Regions from separate parts of the Homo sapiens genome. Here regions 2 and 3 are each linked to region 1. Evidence: fine-mapped expression QTL. A gene starts in region 1. Each other region holds a variant in brackets. All regions are shown on one strand. Distances are from middle to middle.

Region 1 (5,226 bases):
GATAAACATACACCTCTCAGAGACAGAGTTCCAGGTTAAGATTCAAAAGCTACCCAACCTCTCCAAGCCTCAGTTTCCTCACTGTTAAATGAGGATCATAGGCTTGCTTCATAAAGTTGTTGCAAGGGTTAAATTTGGTAAGACATTTAACAGTGCCTGCTACAGCCATTGTCCACGTAATTCACAGAGTGGTGTCAGGCCTTGAAATAGATGAAAGGAATAACGGTGATGAGACCAGACAAGATGCCCAGCTCATAAGTCGCCCCAGCAGTGTCAGAATGAGAGGAGCTACTGGTAACTAGAGTTCTTCATATCTTCACTGGAGAGGACACACATGGGGGCTACCACAAGATAAGCATGTGGCCACTGTACAGGTGAGTTATGTAGTGTGGGTGGAATCCCTAAAGGCCCTCTGAAATAGTTTCAAACAAATGGCTCCCAGGAATCAACTGAAACAAACCAGTCCAACCCAGCAGATATGGGTGGAAATGGGGTGAGTAGAGGAGGGGTTATGGCTACAAAATCTAAGCAGAAGACACTGGACCCCAACAAGCACTTTGCTCTGTGAACAGTAGCTGTGGCTGTATCGGGAGACCAACCCTCTGAGACAGCTGCTGTGGGACTGCTGACAGCATAGTGTCTTTGCAGCCACATCTTCAACAGCAGTGCATCTGAACACAGACTGCAAGTCTCTCCTCTCCATTAATCCTCATTTTAAGGGGACGGATACTGTCATGTTACAACATCCCCATCCAACACTTGTGGCCAATTGCAATCAGAAACCACCACCTAAAGAGGGTACAAGAAAGAACAGGATGAGAATGCGGGGGAGAACGCGTGTGCACCTGACCACACAGACTATACCACAGGCCCTGTTTGAAACAAAACAACAGCCCTAGCATCGTGATGTGGTCTCCCTACCCTTCCTCATCCAGCCTTGTTCACAGCCATTTCAGGTTTTTCTTACCTTTCTTTATAAAGGTACTGATGAATTCAGGTGTAATTAATTCATGAAGAGGTAAATTCTTCACAAAGTAATAGGGTCCAGTGTTCATGACCAGGTTTTTCAGTTCTTCCGATAGTATCCCACATTCAGGAATGAGAAATGAAACCTATTGGAATGTGTAATACAAACAAGGTCTTACTTCCATGAAGATGAACACCCAGGTTTTTAGGAATGAAACAAAATCATGAAAGTTGTTATTTCTCCACGAGTTTCACTGGAACATAAAAACACGGGCAACAAAACTCTTATGTTAACTTACCTATCTCAGGCAAAGAGAAATCTGACTACTTAAGTTTTTCATTTCTGCATTCAAACGTACAGTACAGGAAGGGGATTGAACAGAATACTTTTAATGGAAAACTCGTGCTTGCATTTAATCTTTTGCAAATTAGCAATGCTGTATATTTTATGTCCTGTTCCTTTCACTATTTTATTTTCAAGGAAATATAGTATAATTGAATATCCCTTGATTTGTTTACCCTGGTGTTATCCTGGAATGAAACAAACTATCTGTCGGGGCATAAGGAATTAATTTATGGACATCCAATTACTAAGAATCTATGTGCAAGCAATGGTGCTCCTGTATGTTTTCATTTTCGAGACAGAAAAATGCAACAGGCGAGTTAAAGTATACATCCCTGACTGCTGTGATGAGCTTGACATCCAAAATAGGTGTTAAAAACAGGGCAGGCTTCAAATGTTGCCACATTGTAAAAGTCATCACTGTCCCAAGGCTCAAACACCAGCCTGTTCTGACTGATCAGGTCACCACTTAACATCTCTGAAACACTGCTCAGTCAAACCTGAGTTATTAAGCTGATCCATTTAAAGTGTAAAATGTTTAATCCCCCATGATAAGGTTAGTTTCTTGAAGTCTCTCAGATATCAAATTAGTTCCAACAACCAATTTAGAAAATCAGTCGCTTCGGCCGGGCGCGGTGGCTCACGCCTGTAATCCCAGCACTTTGGGAGGCCGAGACGGGCGGATCACGAGGTCAGGAGATCGAGACCATCCTGGCTAACACGGTGAAACCTCGTCTCTACTAAAAATACAAAAATTAGCCGGGCGTGGTGGCGCGCGCCTGTAGACCCAGCTACACGGGAGGCTGAGGCAGGAGAATGGCGTGAACCCGGGAGGCGGAGCCTGCAGTGAGCCGAGATCGCGCCACTGCACTCCAGCCTGGGCGACAGAGCGAAACTCCGTCTAAAAAAAAAAAAAAAAAAAAAAGGAAAATCAGTCGCTTCCTGGGCCGAGCCTAGGCAGGATGCTCTGGTGAGATCCACAGGTACGCAGGTGGGAGAGGGATTCAAGCTGGGGAGGAGGCAGTGGTGGGGAGGAGGCGCGAGACCCGCCCTGATTTGGGGAAAAAGCGAGGTGCACGTGGCTGCCCCACAGCCTAACTCCCTGGTCCCGGCCCTGAACCTCGAATCCCTCCCTGGACTCACTCCCAGTTCGGCGGGTTGACACGAGTGAGCAGCCAGAACGCCCCTGACAACAGCTCCCTCCAGACTGGGTACCGCCCCCACGCCCGGCGCATCCTGGGAGTTGTAGTCCTGTAGCCCTGCAAGCCACTGGCTTAGAGCAGTTAAGAGACTACAACTCCCAGCAAGCCGGGCGAGGGCCCCGCCCCTCCGCGTACCGCCGGCGGCCCCGCCCCGCGAAGCCTAGCACTCTCCCCAAACCTCTCTCGCACGCGGGGACTGAGCACGGCCCGAAAAGCCGAGGACAGCCGGACTCACCCTGTAGTTATAGTAGTGCGTCTGCACAAGATGCCGGTGGCGCGACTTGTGGTTGCCGAAGTTGGATTTCTCGCAAACCAGTAAGTGCCGCGGCGCCTCCCGAAGCCGGCGCAGCGTGGCCATGCTCTCCTGGGTTCCTGGTCCTCCCGGCCTCCGCTGGCGGGGCACGCCCCGCCCCTTCCTCCCGCCCCGCCCCTTCCCTCCGGCCGCATACCCGCTGCTGTGCGCCCCTGGCGGCGGTGGAGTGGGGATGGCGGCGCTGGATTTCTGAGCAGTTCTTAGACTTCTTAGGAGCCCACGCAGCCGCTCTTTGGTGGATGTCTGAAGCTGTAAATTCACTGTCCCAGTGGCTGGGAACCTGGCTCTTGCCTTTTCAACGCCACTTTTCCTCCGTCCCCGCCATCCCTTGGAATTGCCCTAAACCCTCTCTGTGGGCCCCGCCTCGGAGCGCCCCTTGGACCCCAGCCTGGCGCCGGCGCATACCTCGGTCAGGCCCCTCAGAGGGACCGCTTCCTGCCACCGTTATAAAAGGAAAACATCGCATGGAAAGGCCCAGTTCCTTTAGTATATGGTCAAGAAATGTAGCCGCACAGTTAAGTAACCCCCTAAGCTGCTTTGGGGGCCACACCCAGCTGCTTTCTGACTTCTCACACTGTTTGGTTCACAGGACTCTGTTACCCATTGGGGACCTCTTGGCCATTATTAACACAGGCCAACAGGACTAAAAGTTTGTATCAGTCCTTCCCAAAACATTAGGGAAGGTTGTGCGGGAAGGTAAAGCACAATTTTTGCCTTACAATAGGACTCCTTTGAAACTACTATTGAGTTCCCTTTTAAATAGCCCTTCAGAACCGCTTTTAATAATGTGTTGTTTCTGGGGGTTAATAGTGATAATTCTCCTAAGTCATTTTTCCATTTCGTTTTTCTGTCACGGGCTTGGAGCGGTTAAGAGACTGCGGCTCCCAGCATGCGGTACGTTACTGATCAGGGCAAAATCAAGTATGTTACTACATGCTTCTCAAACTAGAGAGGCACAGCCCCAATTCTGCACTGGCAGGATACAAAACAGCAGAATATTGGTGATACATCTTCCTGGAACATCAGTTTTTCTATGAGATGTGGAAGAAATGGAATTAAGTAGTTTACAAGGTAAATAATTAAGAATTTAAAACTAAGCCAGTCACAGTGGGTCATGCCTGTAATCCCAGCACTTTGGGAGGCTGAGGTGGGAGGATCACTTGAGCTTAGGAGTTCAAGACCAGCCTGGGCAATATAGTGAGACCCCATCTCCAAAAATAAAAATAAAACTAAGACAAGGCTGGAAAGTCATCTGCCATTATAAACATCAGTAATCTGGCCGAGCACAGTGGCTCACGCCTGTAGTCCCAGCACTTTGGGAGGCTGAGGTGGGAGGATCACTTGAACTCAGAAGTTCACGACCACCCTGGACAATATAGTAAGACCCCATCTCAAAAAAAAAAATTAAAACTAAGACAAGGCCGGAAAGTCATCTGCCACTAAAAACATCGGTAATCTGGCTGAGTGCTGTGGCTCACGCCTGTAGTCCCAGCAATTTGGGAGGCCGAGGCGAGCAGATCGCCTGAGGTCAGGAGTTCAAGACCACCCTGGCCAACATGGTGAAACGCTTTCTACTAAAAATACAAAAATTAACAGGGTGTGGTGGCGCATGCCTGTAATCCCAGCTACTCAAGAGGCTGAGGCAGAAGAATCACTCGAACCTGGGAGGCAGAGGTTGCAGTGAGTCAAGATCTCGCCACTGCACTTCTAGGCTGGGCGACAGAGTGAGACTCTGTCTCAAAAAAAAAAAAAAAGTCAAAATGTAATCTATGACTGAAATGTCACATTTTCTTTCCAAGGAAAAACCTAATGAGAACCTGTTTCCCATTATTTTAAACAGCAGAATTATAAGGCGTGGCAAGTTAATTAAAAAAAACCCTACTAATTTCCTAGATCACAATATGGCAGCTAGATGTTTTATAAATAACAGCTACTAATAACATGTTAAGATGTAAAAGGCTTAAAGCATTGCTTCTTGGTCACCTCATATTTAATGTAATTGTCACCAGACAGTTGCTTTGTGTGTGGTAGCAGTGGCCCAAGACTGAAACATCACGGATGTACCTCTCCTTTGTCGACATTCCAAAACTCCACAAAGTGACTGGTGTGATCCTGATGGTCTACCAATTGTATTTGGAAGCACCGTGAAGCTTTTCCAGCAAACCATTTAGTTTAAAATGTTGCATATTTTGAAGATGCAAAATAAATTCTATCTATGTAAATATCAGCTGAAAAATGTATTGAGAGATATAAACTGCCCTCTTCTCAAGAGAGACCCCACAGAGTCTTGCAGCTTTAAGTCCTCCTCTCTGGCTGCTGATAACCCCTAGATGTGGCGCCTCTTCCCTGAGCGGAGTATCCAGATGACTCTAGTACAAGGACTCACCCCTGACTTCTTCCCT
Region 2 (5,226 bases), 41 kb after region 1:
TTGGCTGCTGTGTTCTGTTCATTGCCTCCTTCAACAACCTTTCAGCACAGTTTGCCTTCACCTCTAACGGGTCACAATTTACCTTTTCTAGGCTACCCATGGGGACCTCAACAGCTTTGCCATTGCACACTATCTTTGCAGACAAGATCTTAATCACATCCAACTTTCTGCAGTTGCACAGGGTACCTCAGACCCACATCCCAGATGACATTCCTCAGAAGCTCGCAGCTGGAGATGACATCACCTTAGACAACATCACCCTAGCCCAAGACATCGCTATTAGAGATACATCACCTGGACACTAAAGCCTCCAACCCAGTGACACTCTCAAGGTGCTGACAAAATGGACATGGACATTTGTTGCTTTTCTTCTTTTGAATTAGGAACTCTATTGTGTTTCCTGAATTTACTGTCTGCTTGGCCCATGATCCTGGTATGTTCCTTGCTCTCTGCCAAAACATGCACCGTCCCCTCCACACCTAAAGGAAAACCTGGTAGAAGCTACTACTCTCAATGCCATTCTAAAATTGACGAAGAGTATTATTTTCCCCAAGAGGCAGCTGCTGCAGGCCAGTGAATCCTCTGGACCCTGGGGAGAGGGTCATACACTCCCTAGTGACTTCTACTGTATGCTCCAGCTTTCCACCAGGACCTCCTGCCCTGTCCCCAACTGTAACGACCACAACCACCCCATCCCCTTGGTTACACACAAATATCACCAGTCTTTACATGTACTTTACTGACTTCTCAGATAATACCCTCCAACAAGATAACTGCAGGACTTGCCACCATGACCTGAGAAATACACCAAGATATTATTGTCCAATTTTTTTGAGATATATATATATTTCTCATACTTTTAACATACTCTGCAATCCACCAAGATATTGGTAGAGACCCTGGAAATTTCAAATCTATTTCGTCTGCTAATGCCATGTGAATGGGAAACTTAGATACAGGCTGGCCTACAAGGACTCCTTATACTTCAATTTTTGTTCCTCCTTTCAACTCTCATAAAAAATATTTTCTGTACTATTTAGGGCAAATGATGGCCTTCTTTCTAAGTCTCATCCATCATTGCTGCAAAGGTGCCTTAGTTTGATGTTAAAGTGTCACAGGGCCAATGTATTGACCATGTTTCTGGCGTCTATAAAGTCGATGTTTTAATATCTGTCCTACATGCATACACCAAACATTCCTTGATCTGGAAAACCCAACAGTATGCTTTGCTTCAGCCTCAGGCCTCCCTTGTCGCCTCCTCTGTGCCACCCCCCATTCCTCGGGAGTCCTCCTCCTCCCAGGGGCGCACTTTTCAAATACAAACCAACCAATCCAGAGCCCACACCCCAACCACCTCCTTTATTGGTCTCTCACATGCTGGGCCACTATCCACTTTCCCTAATCACCCAAAGTCAGGTACCAGACAATTAGGGACAGCCCCTATACCCCAGAGCCTGCTGAAATTAGCAAACTGGCCAATCCCGAGTCTGTTTACTTTGCCTTCCTGTTTCTTCCCAAGGAAATCACAAAAAAAGGCTCTTGTCCACAGCCCCCCTCTCGCTCTGCCTCCTGCTTCCCTGTGCGGCCCTGTGGTGTGGTGCACACCTTCCTCTTGGGAACTGTGTGAAACTATCTCCTAATCCTCTCCGTTGGCCTTAGTATACCTCAAATTTTTTGTATTGATACACTTTTTTTTGTGGGGTTTTTTTTGTTTGTTTGTTTTTTGTTTGTGAGACGGAGTTTCACTCTTGTCTCCCAGGCTGGAGTGCAGTGGTACGATCTTGGCTCACTGCAACCTCTGCCTCCTGGGTTCACCTGTGATTCTCCTGCCTCGGCCTCCCGAGTAGCTGGGATTACAGGCGCACACCACCACGCCTGGTTAATTTTTGTGTTTTTAGTAGAGATGGGGTTTCACCATGTTGGCCAGGCTGGTCTCGAACTCCTGACCTCAAGTGATCTGCCCGCCTCGGCCTCCCAAAGTGCTGGGATTACAGGCGGGAGCCACCATGCCCGGCTGACACACTGTTTTCTTTTAAACAGCTGGGAAACCTCTTATCCTCATCACCAGTGCCAGGGTCCAGCTTCAGGAGGGCAGGGCTCACCTGCTTTACTTCCAGATCACCATGTGCAGCGTGGAGCTTCCCTCTGACGTGTTTGTTGGATTTGTTTCAAAAAGGCGGCCATGGTTTCTTTTTTTCCTTCCTCGGCCCTGATTAATTTCAACAGAAGAAAATGTATCCCCTCTAGTTTGTGATGGAATCCAAGCTTAATTAGCCATTCATGGTGCTAAACTGTCCTGCACTGGATGACCCAATCGCTTCTGATTTTCCAAGCTTGGCTCTCAGACCATCCTGGTGGAAGAAACACTAGCAGTCTGCCCAATCTGAATGCAAATCCAGAATAATCTTTTCTTTTGTTGTTACACAGTTATGAGTGCAATTTTTAAATGGCTGCTACTCTACAGCCTGCCTGCCTTATGCTTTCTCCTGGGCACGCAGGAAAGTGAGAGCTTCCACTCCAAAGCAGAGATCCTAGTGACACTAAGTCAGGTAATAATCTCTCCAGCTGGACCTCATGCACTCACATGGACAACACACTTCTCTCCTTCAGTGATCATCATCCTTGTACCA[T/C]GTTGGTGGCATGCTGTAATCGTGACTCAACATCCGGTTGCCAATTGCTATGTAACAAACCACCTCAACATTCAGTGGCTTGAATTGAAAGCAGGGTCTTGAAGAGATATTTGCACATTTCATCCTCCCAGCAGCATTATTCACAACAGCCAATAGGCAGAAGCAACCCAATGTCCAACCATAGATGAGTGGATAACCAAAATGTAGTCCATCCATACAATGAAATATGATTCAGCCTTAACAAGGAAGGAAGTCCCGCCACGTGCTACAACATGGATGGACCTTGAGGACACTATGCTAAGTGAAGTAAGCCAGGCACAAAAGGACAAATACTCTATGATTCCATTTTATAGGGTACCAAAGAGAATCAAACTCACAGAGATAGAAAGTAGACTGGGGTGGCCAGGGACTCGGGGAGAGAGGAAAGGGCAGTTATTGTTTAAAAGGTACAGAGTTTCAGTTTGGGAAGATGAAAATGTTCTGGAAACGGTTAATGGTGATTTTACATTGTTTATGTTACCACGATTTGTAAAAGAGCAGCTGCGCTGAGAATGAGCATGCTTGTCATTGGCAGCTCTCTGAGATTTTCAGTGCCTCTTACTGGCTTGTTAAGAAGACGGCAGATTCCTCTCCCCGTCTGCTTCTTTCATTATAAAATTCCCATTTCCATTTTGCCTCTAGGTAGAAGCTCACGGAACTCAAATGGGAAATGATGATGGCAGGATTTTCCTGCCGAAAAGAGGTGTCTCAAAAGAAAAACATATTGTATTTAACATGGAGAAATGAAATCCTCCAAAGCGAGCTTTATGAACTGAATTACCCAGAACGGACTTACCTCTATTGTCAGTATTTTTCTGCTGCCCCTTTGGGCTTCTGGTGCCTGGATAACTAAAAGAGCAGGACATCGTGCTGCTTAGTGGGCTTTGCAGTGGGAAGCGGGAACGTCTACCTGCATGAGCACGGGGCACTCTGCCCAGAGCTTGGGCACATTCCCCTAGGCACAGGAGTAAGGAAGAAGTCTCCAGTGTAGGTTAGGAAATAGGCCTTCAGCATGAGCTTACCACAGCTTTTTTAAGGAAAAAATTAGTGGCTTAAAATAATATTCCACTTTTTTTTTTTTGAGATGGAGTCTCACTCCGTTTCCCACGCTGCAGTGCAGTGGTGCAATCTCAGCTCACTGCAAGCTCTGCCTCCTGGGTTCACGCCATTCTCCTGCCTCAGCCTCCCGAGTAGCTGGGACTACAGGTGCCCGCCACCACACCCGGCTAATTTTTTGTATTTTTAGTAGAGACGGGGTTTCACCGTGTTAGCCAGGATGATCTCGATCTCCTGACCTCGTGATCCACCCGCCTCGGCCTCCCAAAGTGCTGGGATTACAGATATTCCACTATTTTTTATCATAATTGTGTGGACTGACTGGATTCAGCTGGGTGATTTGCACTCGGAGTCTCTCGCGTGGCTGCCGTCTTCTGAAGGCTGGACGTCCCACATGGCTTCTTTACTAATACATCTGGTGCTTCAGCTGGGACAGCTGGGACAGCTGGCGGCTGCACAGGCATCTCGCTCTTTGCACACAGGCTCCCCATATGCTTAGTTTGAGCTTGGTGATTTTAAAGTAGTTGAACTTAGATGGCAGCTGGCTTCCCTCAGAGTAAATATGCCAAGATACCCAGGTGGAAGCTGTAAGGTTTCTAATGACCTAGTCTGAGATTTCACACCAAGATGGCTTCCGTCATATTCTGTTGGTCAAAAATAAGCCACACGGTGGGGCATGGTAGCACACACCTGTAACGCCAACACTTTGGGAGGCCAAGAAGGGTGGATCGCTTGAGCCCAGGAGTTCGAGACCAGCCCGGGCAACATGGTGAAACCCCGTCTCTACAAAAGAATACAAAAATTAGCTGGGCATGTTGGCACACCTCTGTGGTCTCAGCTACTTGGGAGGCTGCGGTGGGAGAATCTCCTGAGCCCAGGGAAGTTGAGGTTTCAGTAAGCCATGATCATGCCACTGCACTCCAGTCTGGGTGACAGACTGAGACCCTATCTCAAAAAAAATAAAAGCTACAGGTCAACCCAGATTCAAGGGGATAGGATTACACAAAGTCACAGATTCAGGAAGGTATAATTTATTGGGGAACCGTCTTTGGAGACTAGCTACCACAATCTGTCACCATCTTTTAGATAAGACGATCAACATATTTCTGAGTATACTTTAGATTTCCACTATCAGTGCATTTTCTGAAACTTCCCCAGTCTTAGCACTGAAGGTCCTGCACCCCAGGAAATATCTATCAGTCTTTGTCAAACCAGGATGGTTGGTCACCCTACTTTTAGACCTCCTCATTTTCATGAACTCAATATTGCATAAGGTTGATCTTCCAAAAACATGTATCTGCCTTAAAATTGTGATTTCCATCCTGATGAGGTCTCCTCATATTCCTTTGTCTTTCTGGTTTGTATAGGATCCACTTGACTTCAGAGCTGTAGAAATCCAATAATATGGCAGTGATGATGCATTCTTTTATTGGCCCACAGTTATTATTTTAATCCAAGATACAGCTGAACACCATATCTTAGATCTAAACTCTCATACAAT
Region 3 (5,226 bases), 43 kb before region 1:
GAAGGGTCAGGCCACTTGCCCACCATCACACAGCCTGTTGGTGACCTAGCACCTGGGAAGAGAGGGCTACACTCCACTGCTCTATGCACTCTTCCCTTAAGTGGGAAGGCAAGGAGGGGACCAATGGCCTGTGGTGTCCAGCCCATCCTGGCATCCCATGGGCCTGTGATTCTCTGCAAGTGAGAGTGGTGGGGCAGCATGGCAGAACGGGTGGTTCCAGCCTGCCCAGTGGCTCTGGATTTAGGCTATTTTCAAGTCAACGCTAAACTTACCAGGGAATTCTGATGGTCTACAAGCTTTCTGCATCTGTAAGAGCTGGACCAGCCCACCGAGCTCTCTCAATACTAACTAGCATTTAAAAATAAATACCTTCACTATTTGGCAACAGGGGAATCCTCTCCTATCACAGGAATCCTCTCCCTCTTCCCTAGGGAACGTTCTGACAGCATGTCTGTCTGAAGAAGCAAACGAATGTCTGCTTTGGTGAAAATGACATTGAATGATTTCAACCCTGGTTTAAAACTTACTTTTTTGGCAAGATAAGAGACTAGCATTTCAAAATTTAAAATCTGTTTTATGACCTTTAGAGTCACAAGCACTTAAATGGCTAATAAATGGTTTAATACAGGTATTAGAATAAAAGCTAAGATCTAATGTATTTAACATTAATTCTTATTTTCTTAAATTTTATATACTAAAACTGGGTAAATTATATACATATATATGTCTATCACCTGTATGAAACACACTGCATAGGACAACTAGACAGAGGATCAACAAGGAAATAGAAGACTGGAACAACATTTTAAACCACCTAGACGTAACACACCTATACAACCCTTCATCCAATAACAGCAGAGGGCATATGCTTCTCAAGTGCACCTGGGACATTCTCGAGGATAGACCATATGTTAGGCAATAAAACAAGTCTTAAAAGTTTAAAATGATTAAAATCATACAAAGTATGTCCTCCAGCCTCAATGGAATGCAATGAGATATCAATAACAAAGAAATGTGGAGAATTCAAAAATATGCGGAAATTAAACCACATTCCTAAATAACAAATGGGTCAAACAAGAAACCACAAGAGAAATTAGAAAATACTTTGAGATGAATGAAGATGAAGACACAACATAACCAAATTTATGTAATAAATTATATAATAAAACATCTATATGAGAAAAGTAGATGCCAAATCAATAACCTAATCTTCTACCTTAAGAAACTAGAAATAAAGAACCGCAAACTAAACCCATAGCAAGTAGAAGGAAAGAAATGAAGATTAGGGCAGGAGTAAGTAAAATGAAGTACAGAAAAACAGTAGAGAAAAATCTATGAAACCTAAAGTCATTTCTTTGAAAAGATCAACAAAATTGACAAATTTTAGTTAGACTGACCAAGGACATAAGAGACTATTCAAATCACCGAAATCAGAAATGAAAAGGGGGGACACTACTACCAACCTTAGAGAAATAAAAAGAACTATAAGAGAGTGCTGAGGAATCGTATCCCAACAAATTAGATTAGCTAAATGAAATGGACAAATTCCTAGAAAGACACAAACTTGAAATTGACTCAAGAAGAAAGAAAAAACTAAAATAGACAAAAAGATTGAATCTGCTGTCAAAAAACTTTCTACGAAGAAAAGCCCAGCACTAGATGGCTTCACTCATAAATTCTGTCAAATGTTTAAAAAGGAATCAATGCCAATCCTTCACAAACTCTTCCACAAAATAAGAGGAGTGAATGCTTCCTTACCTCTATAAGGCTAGTGTTGCCCTAATACCAAAACCAGACAAAGACATCACAAGGAAACTATAGACCATATAGACTATATATTTATGTTAACATTCCTTATTAATACAAATGCAGATATTCTCAATGAAGTAATCTGACAACATATAAAACTTATATGTACACCATTACCAAGTAGGTTGTGGTGAACTGCAAATGTGCCACTGCACTCTAGCCTGGGTGACAGGGCAAGACCCTGTCACAAAAAAAAAAAAAAAAAAAAAAAGATGCTCAATGTCAGCCACTATGGAAATGCAAATCAAACTACAGTAAGACATCACTTTATCCCACTAGAATGACTATAACAAGAAAATACCAAAAACTGAACTAATACGTTCAGTTATAATAACAATAACAAATGTTGATGAACATGTGAAAAAATTGAAATCCTCACACATTTGCTGGTGAAAATGTCAACTGGTACAGCCACAGTAGAAAACTGCTTGATAGTTCCTCAAACTGGCATAAGGATGAAGTTAAACTTCTTAAGGAACTCTTAAGCCTTGCAATTCTACGTCTAGTATATATCCAAGAGAATTAAAGATAGGTACTCAAATACTTGTATGTGAATGTTCATAGCAGCATTATTCATAATAGCCACCAAATATTCACCAACTGGAGAAAGGATAAACAATGAATTGGCATATCCAATGGAATGTTATCTGGCAATACAGATGAATGAATGAGGTATTGATACATGCTACAGTGTGGTTGAACCTTGAAAACATTAC[G/A]CTAAGTGAAAGAAGCCAGATGCAAAAGGCCACATATTGTATGATTCCATTTATATAAAATGCCAAGGATTGGTAAATCCATAGAAACAGAAAATAGATTCGTGGTTTCCAGGGACAGGGGGTGACATGGGGCAACCGGAGTGGGGAGCGGCAGGTACAGGTTTTTATTTGGGGGGTATGAAAATGTTCTGGAATTAAATAATGGTAATGTTCACACAACCTTGTAAATATCCTTTAAAAATTGAATTGTTTGCCTCTTAAAATGGTTAATTTTATGTTGTTTCAATTATGTCTCAATTTTTTGAACGTGTGTGTATATTATATATATAATCCTCTAAACTAACATAAGGAGACTATGGAAAAATACTTAACTGATCCGAAATGTGCAAGAAAGATGTGAAAAAGCAACATAGACTGGCAGGACAAATAATAGCACATAGAAAATATGGTATATTTTATCTCAAAATATTAACAAACACATTAAATAAAAATAGACTAAATTCTTGTGTGAAAGCTAAATATTTTCAGGCTGTATTCAAAATATATTGACCTAGATATACATATATGCTGTTGACAAGAAAAGAAAACGCATCGGAAACTGAAAAGTTGAACGTAAAAAGGTAGAAAATATATACTGTGCAAACAATAACCAAACAAAAACTGGTGTAGCTATGCTAATATCAAAATATCTATTAAAGCAAAAAGCATGGTAGGAAAAAGTTTTTCATAATGACAGCAGACTAAGTTCTATTGAAAGATATATAGTTCTAAATTTGCGTGTACCTTGTTACTTATCCTCAGAGAAGAAGAAGAAAAGGAAGAACAAGAAGGGAGGAGAAGGAGGAGAAGGAGAAGGAGGAGGAGGAGGAGAAGGAGGAGAAGGAGGAGAAGGAGAAGGAGGAGGAGAGAAGGAGAAGGAAGTGCGTTCAGCAGCTTCTAAACTGGCTCCCAGTGATCCCGACCTCTTGCTCTTCACATCTGTGTATGATGTACGGCTAGACCTGGTGACTCGCTTCTAACAAACAGAACATGGCAAAAGCAGTCACTTCTGAAATCTGGCTGTAAAAGACTGTGACTTGTGGCTGGTGCACACATGTTCTCTTTTTGCCTCCTCTGGCTGGCTTACTATGGGAGAGTCCAGCTGCCATGCTGGGAAGTACCCATAGGACAGGCCCATGAGCCAAGGGACCGAGGGCGACCTCCCACCAACATCAAGTGAGGAGCTGAGTCCTGCCAGTGCCCACAGGAGCGGGCTTGAGAGAGAATCCTTTCCCAGTCCAGCCTGGTTCACCCTTTAAACCGCAGCCCTGGAGAGACCTCTAGACAGAGGATCTGGCTAAGCTACATCTGGATTTTTTGTTCCAGAAAGTGTGAGTTTGGGGGTAATTTGCTATTCAACAGTAGACGACTAATACAACCAGGGTGGTCATTCTCACAGCTCACTTTTGATAAATATACAGATAGATAGATAGATAGATAGATAGATAGATAGATAGATAGATAGAGATAAATACAAACAGACATTGATATAGATGGGGTCTCAGACAAAATTTTCATCTTCACGTCCTGTAACAGCTTGCTAAAATAGTCTATTCTCTGCATTTAAATGTCCCTTTATGTGGGATTGGATGTACAAATGATCTTATGCCCATACTGTGCAACTCTTTAAGAGAACATGTAGCAATGATGGTGATGAATATTTATTACTGTCTTAGATGAGAATTACAATCAGCCCTATTTTTCAAATGAGAACTCTGAGACCAAAAGAGGTTATATAATTTACGTAAGGTCACCCCCCCCAGTAAGGGCTGGAACAGAGATTTCATAGCAACCAAACCACACCCAAGAACAGCATTCTCTCCTTTTTCATCCTTTGCGCTCTATAGACCCCAGGGTAATGGTGTGTCGTGGGCTCTTGGCCTTTCTCTGTCTTTCTTTCTTTTTTTTTTTTTTTTTTTGAGACAGAGTCTCGCTCTGTCACCCAGGCTGGAGTGCAGTGGCGCGATCTCGGCTCACTACAAGCTCTGCCTCCCGGGTTCATGCCATTCTCCTGCCTCAGCCTCCTGAGCAGTTAGGACTACAGGCGCCCACCACCACGCCCAGCTAATTTTTTGTATTTTTAGTAGAGACGGGGTTTCACCGTGTTAGCCAGGATGGTCTCGATCTCCTGATCTCGTGATCCACCCGCCTCGGCCTCCCAAAGTGCTGGGATTACAGGCATGAGCCACCACGCCCAGCCTGGGCTTTCTCTTTCTATGACAATAAGTAAATGTGACATTTCTTGCCCCTTGAATTTTAGAAGCAATTTGTAGACTTGTCATATGTATGTTATTATAGGTATTTTTGCTAGCCACGCTGTCACTGTCAAGCTCCTGGGTGAAATAAAATTAGGTAAGTTTTTAGACAAAGCCTTGGTATATAAACTTTTGCTACTCACTGTCTTCAACTCAGGAATGCAATTCATTTGGAATGTGTGCCATCACTCCTGATGCAAGCTTGGTGCCTGACACTCATTATCCCCAGCAGGAACTTCTTGGTGATTTCCACGGTGAGGGACAGTCATGTCAGCACAGAAAAGACACCAAACTTTCGGTTTGATCATCACTAATTACCTCTAGTGGGTGTGATTATGAGAAACTTTTACTTTTCAAATAAATTGGGGAAATGTTTTCATTGTTACAAGCATGTTTACATGACTAAT

Evidence for each region. PIP is the estimated chance that this variant, and not a neighbour inherited with it, causes the effect. A credible set is the group of variants that fine-mapping cannot tell apart.
Region 2: its variant is the best candidate, but not a certain one, in a credible set for the expression of RPP40 in testis (GTEx, PIP 0.61).
Region 3: its variant is the best candidate, but not a certain one, in a credible set for the expression of RPP40 in T cells (TOPMed, PIP 0.54).

What each region holds. Positions count from the first base shown.
Region 1 is chr6:5,001,134-5,006,359 of GRCh38, forward strand. It overlaps RPP40 (ribonuclease P/MRP subunit p40), which reads right to left and starts at 2,904. Exons shown (of 8, transcript NM_006638.4): 1 at 2,747-2,904; 2 at 968-1,112. The coding sequence starts at 2,869. It overlaps LYRM4-AS1 (LYRM4 antisense RNA 1), which reads left to right and starts at 2,683. Exons shown (of 4, transcript NR_126015.1): 1 at 2,683-2,826. RefSeq lists silencers at 2,505-2,754, 2,885-3,014.
Region 2 is chr6:5,042,415-5,047,640 of GRCh38, forward strand. The region is part of intron 2 of LYRM4-AS1 (LYRM4 antisense RNA 1); the gene reads left to right. It also overlaps a transcript of LYRM4 not described here. Among named protein-coding and RNA genes, the nearest start is that of PPP1R3G, 40 kb to the right of the region's middle. RefSeq lists an enhancer at 2,208-3,407. The variant T/C (reference allele first, on the strand shown) is at 2,631.
Region 3 is chr6:4,957,975-4,963,200 of GRCh38, forward strand. No RefSeq gene overlaps it. Among named protein-coding and RNA genes, the nearest start is that of LYRM4-AS1, 43 kb to the right of the region's middle. The variant G/A (reference allele first, on the strand shown) is at 2,526.